Linked DNA regions of Homo sapiens: region 2 is linked to region 1. Evidence: fine-mapped expression QTL. A gene starts in region 1. The other region holds a variant in brackets. All regions are shown on one strand. Distances are between the middles of the regions.

Region 1 (5,375 bases):
AATCCCTGCTGTTGCCCCAGACTTCATTTGCACCAAAGTGGGATTATTTAAAAAAACAACAACAACAAAAAAAAAAAACAAAGAAGAGGCCAGGTGCAATGACTCACTCATGAAGACCAAGGCAGGAGGATCCCTTGAGGCCAGGAGTTTGAGACCAGCTTTGGCAACATAGCGGGATCCCTCTACAAAAAATTTCAAGAATTAGCTGAGCATGGTGGCCTGCACCTCTGTAGTCACAGCTACTCTGGAGGCTAAGGCAGAAGAATCAATTGAGCCTAGGAGGTCGAGACTACAGTGAGCTGTGGTCATACTACTGCACTCCAGCCCGAGCAACAGAGTGAGACCCTGTCAAAAAAAGAAAGAAGAAAAGAAAGAAAGAAAGAAGGAAAGAAGGAAAGAAGGAAAGAAAGAAAGAAGAAAAAAAGAAAGAAAGAAAGAAAGAAAGAAAGAAAGAAAGAAAGAAAGAAAGAAAGAAAGAAAGAAAGAAAGAAAGATGACAGTTCATATGATTGTGCCTGGTAGTCAGGAAGACACCCATAATAGTAAACACTTCTGTCTGGACACGGTGGCTCACGCCTTTAATCCCAGCACTTTGGGAGGCTAAGGCGGGTGGATCATGAGGTCAAGAGTTCGAGACCATCCAGGCCAACATGATGAAACCCCGTCTCTACTAAAAATACAAAAATTAGCTTGGTGTGCTGGCGCATGACCGTAATCCCAGCTACTCAGGAGGCTAAGGCATGAGAATCACTTGAACCCAGGAGGTGAAGGTTGCTGTGAGCTGAGATCACACCAGCCTGGTGACAGAGCGAGACTCCATCTCCAAAAAAAAAAAAAATTAGTTAACCACTTCCTAAGGTTGTTTTGTCCAGTGTCTGAACAGGGAGGACCCATGGCAGGTTCTCAAACATCTTAGCTCTCACTATTAATATTAATGGGAATATTATTTTCACCACCACTCTTATTTTGGCTATTAAATGACAAGACAGGCTGACTGCAGTGGCTCACACCTGTCATCCGAACACTTTGGGAGGCTGAAGCAGGGGGATAGCTGGGGACCAGGAGTTCAAGACCATCCTGGACAACATAGCAAGACTCCATCTGTACAAAAAAATAAAAATAAAAAATAGGCCGGGTGCGGCCGGGCGCAGTGGCTCATGTCTGTAATCCCAGCACTTTGGGAGGCCGAGGTGGGCGGATCACGAGGTCAAGAGATTGAGACCATCCTGCCCAACATGGTGAAACCCCATCTCTACTAAAGATACAAAAAATTAGCCGGGCGTGATGGTGCGCGCCTGTAATCCCAGCTACTCAGGAGGCTGAGGAAGGAGAATCACTTGAACCTGGGAGGTGGAGGTTGCAGTGAGCCAAGATCATGCCATTGCACTCCAGCCTGGGTGACAAGGCGAGACTCTGTCTTGAAAAAAAAAAAAAATACAAAAATTAGCCAGGCATGGTGGCATGCACCTGTAGTCCCAGCTACTCGGGAGGCTGAGGCAGGAGAATTGCTTCAACCCGGGAGGTGGAGGTTGCAGTGAGCCAAGATGGAGCCACTGCACTCCAGCCTGGGTGACAGAGCAAGACTCTATTTAAAAAAAAAAAAAAAAAAAAATTAAAAATAGCCGGGCATGGAGGGGTCAGCCCGCAGCCCCAGATATTCAGGAGTTTGAGAGCAGCTTTGGCAACATAGCGGGATCCCTCTACAAAAAAATGTCAAGAATTAGCCAGGCATGGTGGCCTGCACCTGTGTAGTCACAGCTACTCCGGAGACTGAGGCAGGAGGATCGCTTGAGCCCAGGAATTCCAGGCTGCAGTGAGCTATGATCGCACCACTGCACTCAAGCCTGGGAGACAGCAAGAGACCCTGTCTCCAAAATAAAAAAAGACAAGAGGAATAAAAGGACTTCAGGAAGAGGCAAGGCAGCCACAGATGGGGGGAGTTAGAGGCCCCTGTTCCAGTTGCCTTCCCCAGGTATTAACACTGTGGATGCCGACAGTGATGGAGATAATTTCAATTTGCTGAGTCCCTAATATTTCCAGAAAGGCCACTATGCTAAGTAGTTTACACGCAGCGAGTTGTATTAATTCTCATTGGGTGGGGACCTCTGTTGCTCCCATTTTTACATACAGAGAAACTGAGGCCCTAGGAGGCGAACCCCTTGGCCTCAGGCACAAGGCGAGTGGATGCTGGAGGTGGGATTCCCAGGGATTGCAGGGGGAGGGGGTGTTCCCAGACCTCTTCCTGGCCCGCGCGGAGGGGTCGCCCCTGAATCCCTGGGAGCGAGACCTCACCTGTCCGTCTCCCAACTCCTCATGCCCAGCCTCACCTTGCCCTTAACGTCCAGAATGAAGACAGCCGAGGCGGACATGGTGGCGGCCGAAGGACTTAGGAGTCGGGGAGGGAGCGCCGGGAGGCGATGGCGGCGCCGCTTCCTTCTTCCTGCGGAAGCGCCTGCGCCCAGGTGAGAGCCCAGGTGTGTGCGTCTTAAAGGGGAGGCGGCCAGGTGAGCAGCGCTGTCGGCCAACTTGAAGATGGCTGCGGGGCCGGGAGAGGTACTGCGACTTCAGATGGGTCTGCTGCCCCCCTTCACTTTCCCTAGCCACCCAGGAGTAATGACGGGTGGAGACCCCAAACCAATCAACCATCCTTCCATCCATTCATTCATCCTTCCTTTCATTCATCTATCCATCCATTCGTCCATCCATCCATTCATTCTTGCATTCATTAATCCATCCACGCATCCACTCATTTAGCCATTCATTAATCCATCTTCCATCGATTCATTGATCCATCCTTCCATTCGTCATCCATTTCTTCATCCATTTTTGCATTCATTTATTTGTTCGTCTATCCATTATCCATTCATCCATCCATTTATTCATCCATTCATTCATCCCTTCTTGCATTCATTCATTTATTCATCTTTCCATTCATCCATCCATTCATCCATTCTAACATTCATCAATTTATTCATCTATCCATCCATCCATCCATCCGTTCATCCATTCTTGCATCATTAATTTATTCATCTATCCATTCATCAATCCATCCATCCATCCATTCTTGCATTCATTAATTTATTCATCTATCCATTCATCCACCCATCTATCCATTCATTCATCCTCTCATTGATTCATCCATCCATTCACCTTCTTTCTCCTCTGTCTCACCCACACACGTCAGCCCCCATACAGCAGGGACTTTGTCTTGTTCATGTTTATGTCCCTAGTGCTCAGCACTGGGTGCTCAAAATTTGCCCAATTCATTCATTCACTCATTCATATAATAATTTTCACTGGTGAATTTTACTGACTGAATTTGAAATATTCATTCACTCAGTAACAGGAACTGTGGATATAATTCCGAGCAGGACAAATGTACTTGCTTTTATTATTCTTACAAATTTACTCTTATTCATTTCAAATAAAAAATTTATTTTTTTTTGTTTTTTGAAATGGAGTCTCACTCTGTTGCCCATGCTGGAGTGCAGTGGAATGATTTTGGCTCACTGCAACCTCCACCTCCCAGGTTCAAGCAATCCTCCTGCCTCAGCACCCCTAGTAGCTGGGATTACAGGCAAGCGCCACCATGCCCAGCTAATTTTTTTTTTTTTTTAGACTCCAGGCTGGAGTGCAGTGGCATGATCTCTACTCACTACAACCTCCGCTTCCCGGGTTCAAGGGATTCTGCTGCCTCAGCCTCCCAAGTAGCTGGGATTACAGGTATGCGCCATCACGCCTGGCTAATTTTGTATTTTTAATAGAGATGGGGTTTCACCATGTTGGCCAGGCTGGTCTCGAACTCCCGACCTCAGGTGATCCACCCGCCTCAGCGTCCCAAAGGGCTGAGATTACAGGCGTGAGCCACCGCACCCAGCCAAAAAACTTTTTTTGTAGAGACAGGGTCTCACTCTGTACCCTAGACTGGACTGCAGTGATGCAATCATGGCTCACTACAGCCTCAACTTCCTGGGCTCAAGCCATCCTCCTGCCTCAGCCTCCCTAGTAACTGGAACTACAGGCACAAACCGCCACACCCAGCTAATTTTTTTTGAGACAGAATTTTGCTCTAGTTTACCAGGCTAGAGTGCAGTGATGTGATCTCGGCTCGCTGAAACCTATGCCTCCTAGGTTCAAGCAATTCTCCTGCCTCAGCCTCCCGAGTAGCTGAGATTACAGGCATGCGCCACCATGCCCGGCTACTTTTTTTGTATTTTTAGTAGAGACAGGGTTTCTCCATGTTGGTCAGGCTGGTCTTGAACTCACGACCTCAGGTGATCCACCCGCCTTGGCCTCCCAAATTGCTAGGATGACAGATGTGAGCCACTGCGCCTGGCCACAACTAGCTAATTTTTTTTTTTTTTTTTAATTTGGAGTCTCGTCCTGTTGCCCAGGCTGGAGTGCAATGGCACAATCTCGGCTCACTGCAACCTCTGCCTCCCAGGCTCAAGCGATTCTGCTGCCTCAGCCTCCCAAGTAACTGGGATTACAGGCGTGCACCACCAAGCCCAGCTAATTTTTTGTATCTTTAGTAGAGATGGGGTTTCACCATGTTGGCCAGGCTGGTCTCGAACTCCTGACCTCGTGATCCATCTGCCTTGGCCTCCCAAAATGCTGGGATTACAGGCGTGAGCCACTGCGCCTGGCCCACACCTAGCTGATTTTTTTTTTTTTTTTTGAGACAGAGTCTGGCTTTGTCGCCCAGGATGGAGTGCAGTGGCGCAATCTCTGCTCACTGCAACCTCTGCCTCCCAGCTTCAAGCAATTCTCTGCCTCAGACTCCCAAGTAGCTGGGATTACAGGCGCCTGCCACCACGCCCGGCTAATTTTTTTTTTGTATTTTTAGTAGAGACGGGGGTTTCACCATCTTGGCCAGGCTGGTCTTGAACTCCTGACCTCGTGATCCACCCGCCTCAGCCTCCCAAAATGCTGGGATGACAGGTGTGAGCCACCGCGCCAGGCCAGGCCCACCTAGCTAATTTTTTTTTTTCTTTGAGATGGAGTCTCGCTCTGTTACCCAGGCTGGAGTGCAATGGCGCGATCTCAACTCACTGCAAGCTCCGCCTCCCAGGTTCACACCATTCTCCTGCCTCAGCCTCCCGAGTGGCTGGGACTACAGGCGCCTGCCAACACGCCTGGCTAACTTTTTGTACTTTTAGTAAAGACAGGGTTTCACCATGTTAGCCAGGATGGTCTGGATCTCCTGACCTCGTGATCCGCCCGCTTCGGCCTCCCAAAGTGCTGGGACTACAGGTGTAAGCCACCGCACCCGGCCCGACCTAGCTAATTTTTACATTTTTTGTAGAGATGGTGTATCGGTATGTTGCCCAGGCTGGTCTCAAACTCCTGGGCTCAAGCGATCCTCCCCCCTTGGC
Region 2 (5,375 bases), 25 kb after region 1:
TATTTTTTGAGACAGAATCTGTCTCTGTTGCCCAGGCTGAAGGGCAGGGCACAATCTCGGCTGACTGCAGCCTCTGCCTCCTGGGTTCAAGTTATTCTCCTGCCTCAGCCTCCCGAATAGCTGGGATTATAGGCATGCACAACCATGCCCGGCTAATTTTTGTATTTTTAGTAGAGACAGGGTTTCACTATGTTGACCAGGCTGGTCTCAAACTCGTGACCTCAAATGATTCTCCCACTTTGGCCTCCCAAAGTGCTGGGATTACAGGCGTGAGCCACCGAGCCTGGCTAATGTTACTTATATTTAGATTGTTGGGTGGTGGCCTGTTTTTGTAAGGCTAGTGGGCTAAGAATGGCTCTTATATTTTTAAATGGTTGTGAAAAAAGAAAAAAAAATATATATATATGACAGATGATATGTGAACCACAAAGCTTAAAATCTTTAATATCTTGTCCTTAACAGAAAACATTTGCAGAGCCCTGGTAGAGAATTCTCCCTAGAGACTTTTCTTTTCCTTTTTTTTTTTTTTTTTTGAGACTGAGTCTCACTCAGTCACCCAGGCTGGAGTGCAGTGACGTGATCTCGGCTCACTGCAAGCTCCGCCTCCCGGGTTCACGCCATTCTCCTGCCTCAGCCTCCCGAGTAGCTGGGATTACAGGCGCCCGCCACCATGCCCGGCTGATTTTTTTGTATTTTTTTAGTAGAAACGGGGTTTCACTGTGTTAGCCAGATGGTCTTGATCTCCTGACCTCGTGATCTGCCCGCCTCGGCCTCCCAAAGTGCTGGGATTACAGTCGTGAGCCACCGCGCCTGGCTTTTTTTTTTTTTTTTTTTTTTTTTGAGATGGAGTTTCACTCTTGTTGCCCAGGCTGGAGTGCAATGGCGTGATCTTGGCTCACTGCAACCTTTGCCTCCCGGGTTCAAGTGATTCTCTGGCCTCAGCCTCCCGAGTAGCTGGGATTACAGGCATGTGCCACCATGCCTGGCTCATTTTTGTATTTTTAGTAGAGACGGGGTTTCACCATGTTGGCCAGGCTGGTCTGGAACTCCTGACCTCAAGTGATCCGCTCGCCTCGGCCTCCCAAAGTGCTGGGATTACAGTTGTGAGCCACCGCGCCCCGCCAAGACTTTTCTTTTGCCATTTCCCAATCGATCCCCAAGGTGAACATGATATTTATTTATTTATTTTTAATTTAAAAAAAAATTTTTTTTGAGAGGGAGTCTTATGATGTTCCCCAGGCTGGTTGAATTCCCCGGCTGAAGCGATCCTTCCCCTTCAACCTCCTAAGTAGGGGACTATAGGCATGTGCCTCTGTGCCGGGCTAGAGAGCATTATTTTAAAATATTATTTTAGGCTGCGTGCAGTGCCTCACGCCTGTAATCCCAGCACTTTGTGAGGCCCAGGCGGGTAGGTCACTTGAGGTCAGGAGTTCGAGACCAGCCTGACCAAGATGGTGAAACCCCATCTCTGCTAACACTACAAAATTTAGCCAGGCGTGGTGGCAGGTACCTGTAATCTCAGCTACTCAGGGGGCTGAGGCAGGAGAATTGCTTGAACCTGGGCAGCAGAGGTTGCAGTTAGCCAAGATTGCGCCACTGCACTCCAGCCTGGGCAAGAGAGTGAGACACTATTTCAAAAAATAATAAATAAATAAATAAACAAACAAGAGACCCGGTGCAGTGGTTCACTCCTGTAATCCCAGCTGTTTGTGAGGCCAAGGTGGGTGGATCGTGGTTCACTCCTATAATCCCAGCTGTTTGTGAGGCCAAGGTGGGTGGATCGCTTGAGTCCAGGAGTTTGAGACTAGCCTGGGCAACATTGCAAAACCCCTTCTTCCCAAAAATATGCAAAAAAATTAGCTGGTCATGGTGGCTTATGCCTGTGGTCCGAGCCACTCTGGAGGGTGAGGTGGGAGGATTGCTTGAGCCTAGGAGGCAGAGGTTGCAGTGAGCCGACATTGTGCCACTGCACTCCAACCTAGGTAACAGAATGAGACCCCATCTCAAATATACAAGTAAACAAATAAACTCTTACATAATAAAATTAATAAATTCCCTCTGTTCTGGCAGGGGGACTAAAAGCTAATTATAAGTAAGTCCTCAAGTCCATGGAAGATTTTAGCTTTCCATGTGAAAGAATCTTCTACAAATCTTTGGCTAGCTGTTTTCACCTCAGAGGTAGCTCAGCCAAGAAGTCTCCTTCCAGATTGTGACCTATTAATTTCTGTGTGTGTGTGGCATCTGGATCTTTTTAAAGCTTCTTAGGCTGAGCCGGGTGTGGTGGCTCACTCCTATAATCCCAGCACTTTGGGATGCCAGGGCGGAAGGATCACTTGAGCCCAGGAATTTTATACCAGCCTGGGCAACATAGTGAGACCCTGTTTCTGCAAAACAAAAAATTAAAAATTAGCGGGGCGTGGTGGTGCATGCCTGTGGTCCCATCCACTAGGGAGTCTGAGGC[G/A]GGAGGATCACTTGAGCCCAGGAGGTCAAGGCTGCAGTGAGCTATGATTGCGCCCCTGCACTTCATCCTGGGCAAAAAAGGAGACCCTGTCTCAAAAAATAAAAAATAAAAAAAGGTTAAATGTTTCTAGAAGCAAATCTCTGGTTTGGTGCCTAACATAGTCCAGCATACAGTAGGCGCTCTATCTTTTGCCCTTAACCCTTCTGAGCCTCCCCACCCAGATGCTGTCCTCAAACCCTTTGTCAAAAGAGGTGTCTGGGCAGCTGGCGATGCTCATTCCCCAGGCACAGACTTCTGGGAAGGCAGAGGCCAGTGGCTGGCTGTACGGGTGAGGCCTTGGGCCGCTGCAGCCCTTGGGGACTTGGCCAGTGTCCGGAAGCTGTGGGGGCTGGGTGGCATTTGATGTCCTGGCACCAGCACTGTGACTGGGCAGGCTGTGGCAGTTCTCTTATCGCCCACGCCCACTGCACTTGGGTGGGTCAGCCGTCACAGCCAGCAAGGCTGGCACCCGAAGGCTGCCTCTCCCAATCCTGGCCTTGTCCAACAGCTCAATTTTCCCAATTTTTCTTCCACACCATTGCCGCAACGTTATCTCTGCTTCTCCCAGTACCTGCCAAGGAAAAGGCCTGGGTTGGCTCCAGCAGGGCGTTGGTTTGACTCCTGGCTGTGCTCCTCACCAGCTGTGTGGCCCGAGCAAGCAACCTCAGTGTGCCCGTCGTGAAATGGGATCACACTAATGGTTAGTGGGGATTGGAGAAGTTTTTGTTTTGTTATTTTTATTTGTTTGGTTTTGGTTTTTTAGAGACAGTGTTTTCTGTCATCCAGGCTGGAGTGCAGTGGCGTGATCACAGCTCACTGCAGCCTCTGCCTCCCGGGCTCAAGCGATTCTCCCACCTCAGCCTCCTGAGTAGCTGGGACCACAGGCATGCACCACCACACCCAGATAATATAGTTATTTTTTACTTTTTATTTTCTTTCTTTTTTTTTTTTGAGATGGAGTCTTGCTCTGTCACCCAGGCTAGAGTGCAGTGGCGCAATCTTGGCTTGCCACAACCTCTGCCTCCTGGGTTCAAGTGATTCTCCTGCCTCAGCCTCCCGAGTAGCTGGGACTACAGGCGCCCACCACTATGCCCGGCTAATTTTTTGTATTTTTAGTAGACATGGGGTTTCACCACGTTGGACAGGCTGGTCTCAAACTCCTGACCTCAAGTAATCTGCCTGCCTTGACTTCCCAAAGTGCTGGGATTACAGGTGTAAGCCACTGCGCCTGGCCAAGTTGAAGACTTTGGCTGGGTGTAGTGGCTCATGCCTGTAGTTCAAGCACTTTGGGAGGCTAAGGCAGGAGGACTGCTTGAACCCAGGACTTTGAGACCAGCCTGGGCAACATAGTGAGACCCCGTCTCTTTAAGAAAAATGGAAGAGGGTGGTAGCAGAGTCAGAGGAGGACATGGAACGACGGAAGCGAGGTGGGTTTGATGTGATTGCTGTCTTTAAAAATGGAAGAAGTGGCCAGGAGCCAAGGAATGTGGGCGGCCTCTAGAAGGTGAAACAGACAAGGAAACAGATTTTCCCCTAAAATCTCCGAAAGAAACAGCCCTGCCTACACATCGATTGTAGCCCAGTGAGATGCATTTTGTGCTTCTGTCCTCCTGAGCTGTGAGATAATAAATTTGTGGTTTTTATTTATTATTATTATTATTATTTTTGAGACGAGTTTTGCTCTTGTTGCCCAGGCTGGAGTGCAGTGATGCGATCTTGGCTCACTGCAACCTCTGCTTCCTGGTTTCAAGCAATTCTACTGCCTCAGCCTCCTGAGTAGCTGGAATTACAGGTGCACACCACCACGCCCAGCTAATTTTTTGTATTTTTAGTAGAGATGGGGTTTCACCACGTTGGCCACGCTGGTCTGAAGCTCCTGACCTCAGGTGATCCACCTGCCTCGGCCTCCCAAAGTGCAGGGATTACAGGCATGAGCCACCGCACCCGTCCATAAATTTGTGTTTTTTTAAGCCACCAAGGCATTGGTGTCTTGTTACAGCAACGAAAGGAAATAATGCATTTGACCCTCAAACCACATGGGTGTGAGGGGCACCAACCCCCTGTGAAATTAGAAATCTGTGTATGCCTTAAGTTTTTGTAGAGACAGGGTTGTGATCTGTTGATCAGGCTGGTCTCCAACTCCTGGCCTCAAGAGATCCTCCCACCTCAGCCTCCCAAAATGCTGGGATTGCAGGCATGAGTCACCATGCCCGGCCTGCATATAACTGCATATAAGTCCCCCAAAACTTAATTAGTGATAGCCTACTGTTGACTCTTAGCCTTACGGACAACATATCAACATACACATATTGTGTCTCTGTATTATATATATCGTATTCTTACAATAAAGTAAGCTGAAGAAAAGAAAATGTGGCTGGGCGCGGTGGCTCACGCCGATAATCCCAGCACTTTGGGAGGCTGAGGCGGGCGGATCACCCGAGGTCAGGAGTTTGAGACCAACCTGGCCAACATGGTGAAACCACGTCTCTATTAAAAATACAAAAATTAGCCGGACATGGTGGTGCGTGCCTGTAATCCCAGGTACTTGGGAGGCTGAGGCAGGAGAATCTCTTGAACCCGGGAGGTAGAGGTCACAGTGAGCCAAGATTGCGCCACTGCACTCCAGCCTGGGTGACAGAATGAGACTCCGTCTCAAAAAAAAAAAAAAAAAAGAAGAAGAAAAGAAAAGAAAATGTTATTAAGTTGGTGCAAAAGTAATTGCGTTTTTTTTTTTTGCCATTCCTTTTAAGGGAAAAAATATTAAAATGTAAGGAAAAGAAAATACATTTATTATTTATTAAGTGGAAGTGGATCATCAAAAAGGTTTTCAGAGGCTGGGCGTGGTGGCTCACACCTGTAATCATAGCACTTTGGG

What was found. PIP is the estimated chance that this variant, and not a neighbour inherited with it, causes the effect.
Region 2: its variant is the best candidate, but not a certain one, in a credible set for the expression of AP1M2 in whole blood (TOPMed, PIP 0.74).

What each region holds. Positions count from the first base shown.
Region 1 is chr19:10,584,863-10,590,237 of GRCh38, forward strand. AP1M2 (adaptor related protein complex 1 subunit mu 2) reads right to left here and starts at 2,450. Exons shown (of 12, transcript NM_005498.5): 1 at 2,328-2,450. The coding sequence starts at 2,369.
Region 2 is chr19:10,609,817-10,615,191 of GRCh38, forward strand. It overlaps a transcript of SLC44A2 not described here. Among named protein-coding and RNA genes, the nearest start is that of SLC44A2, 13 kb to the right of the region's middle. The variant G/A (reference allele first, on the strand shown) is at 2,462.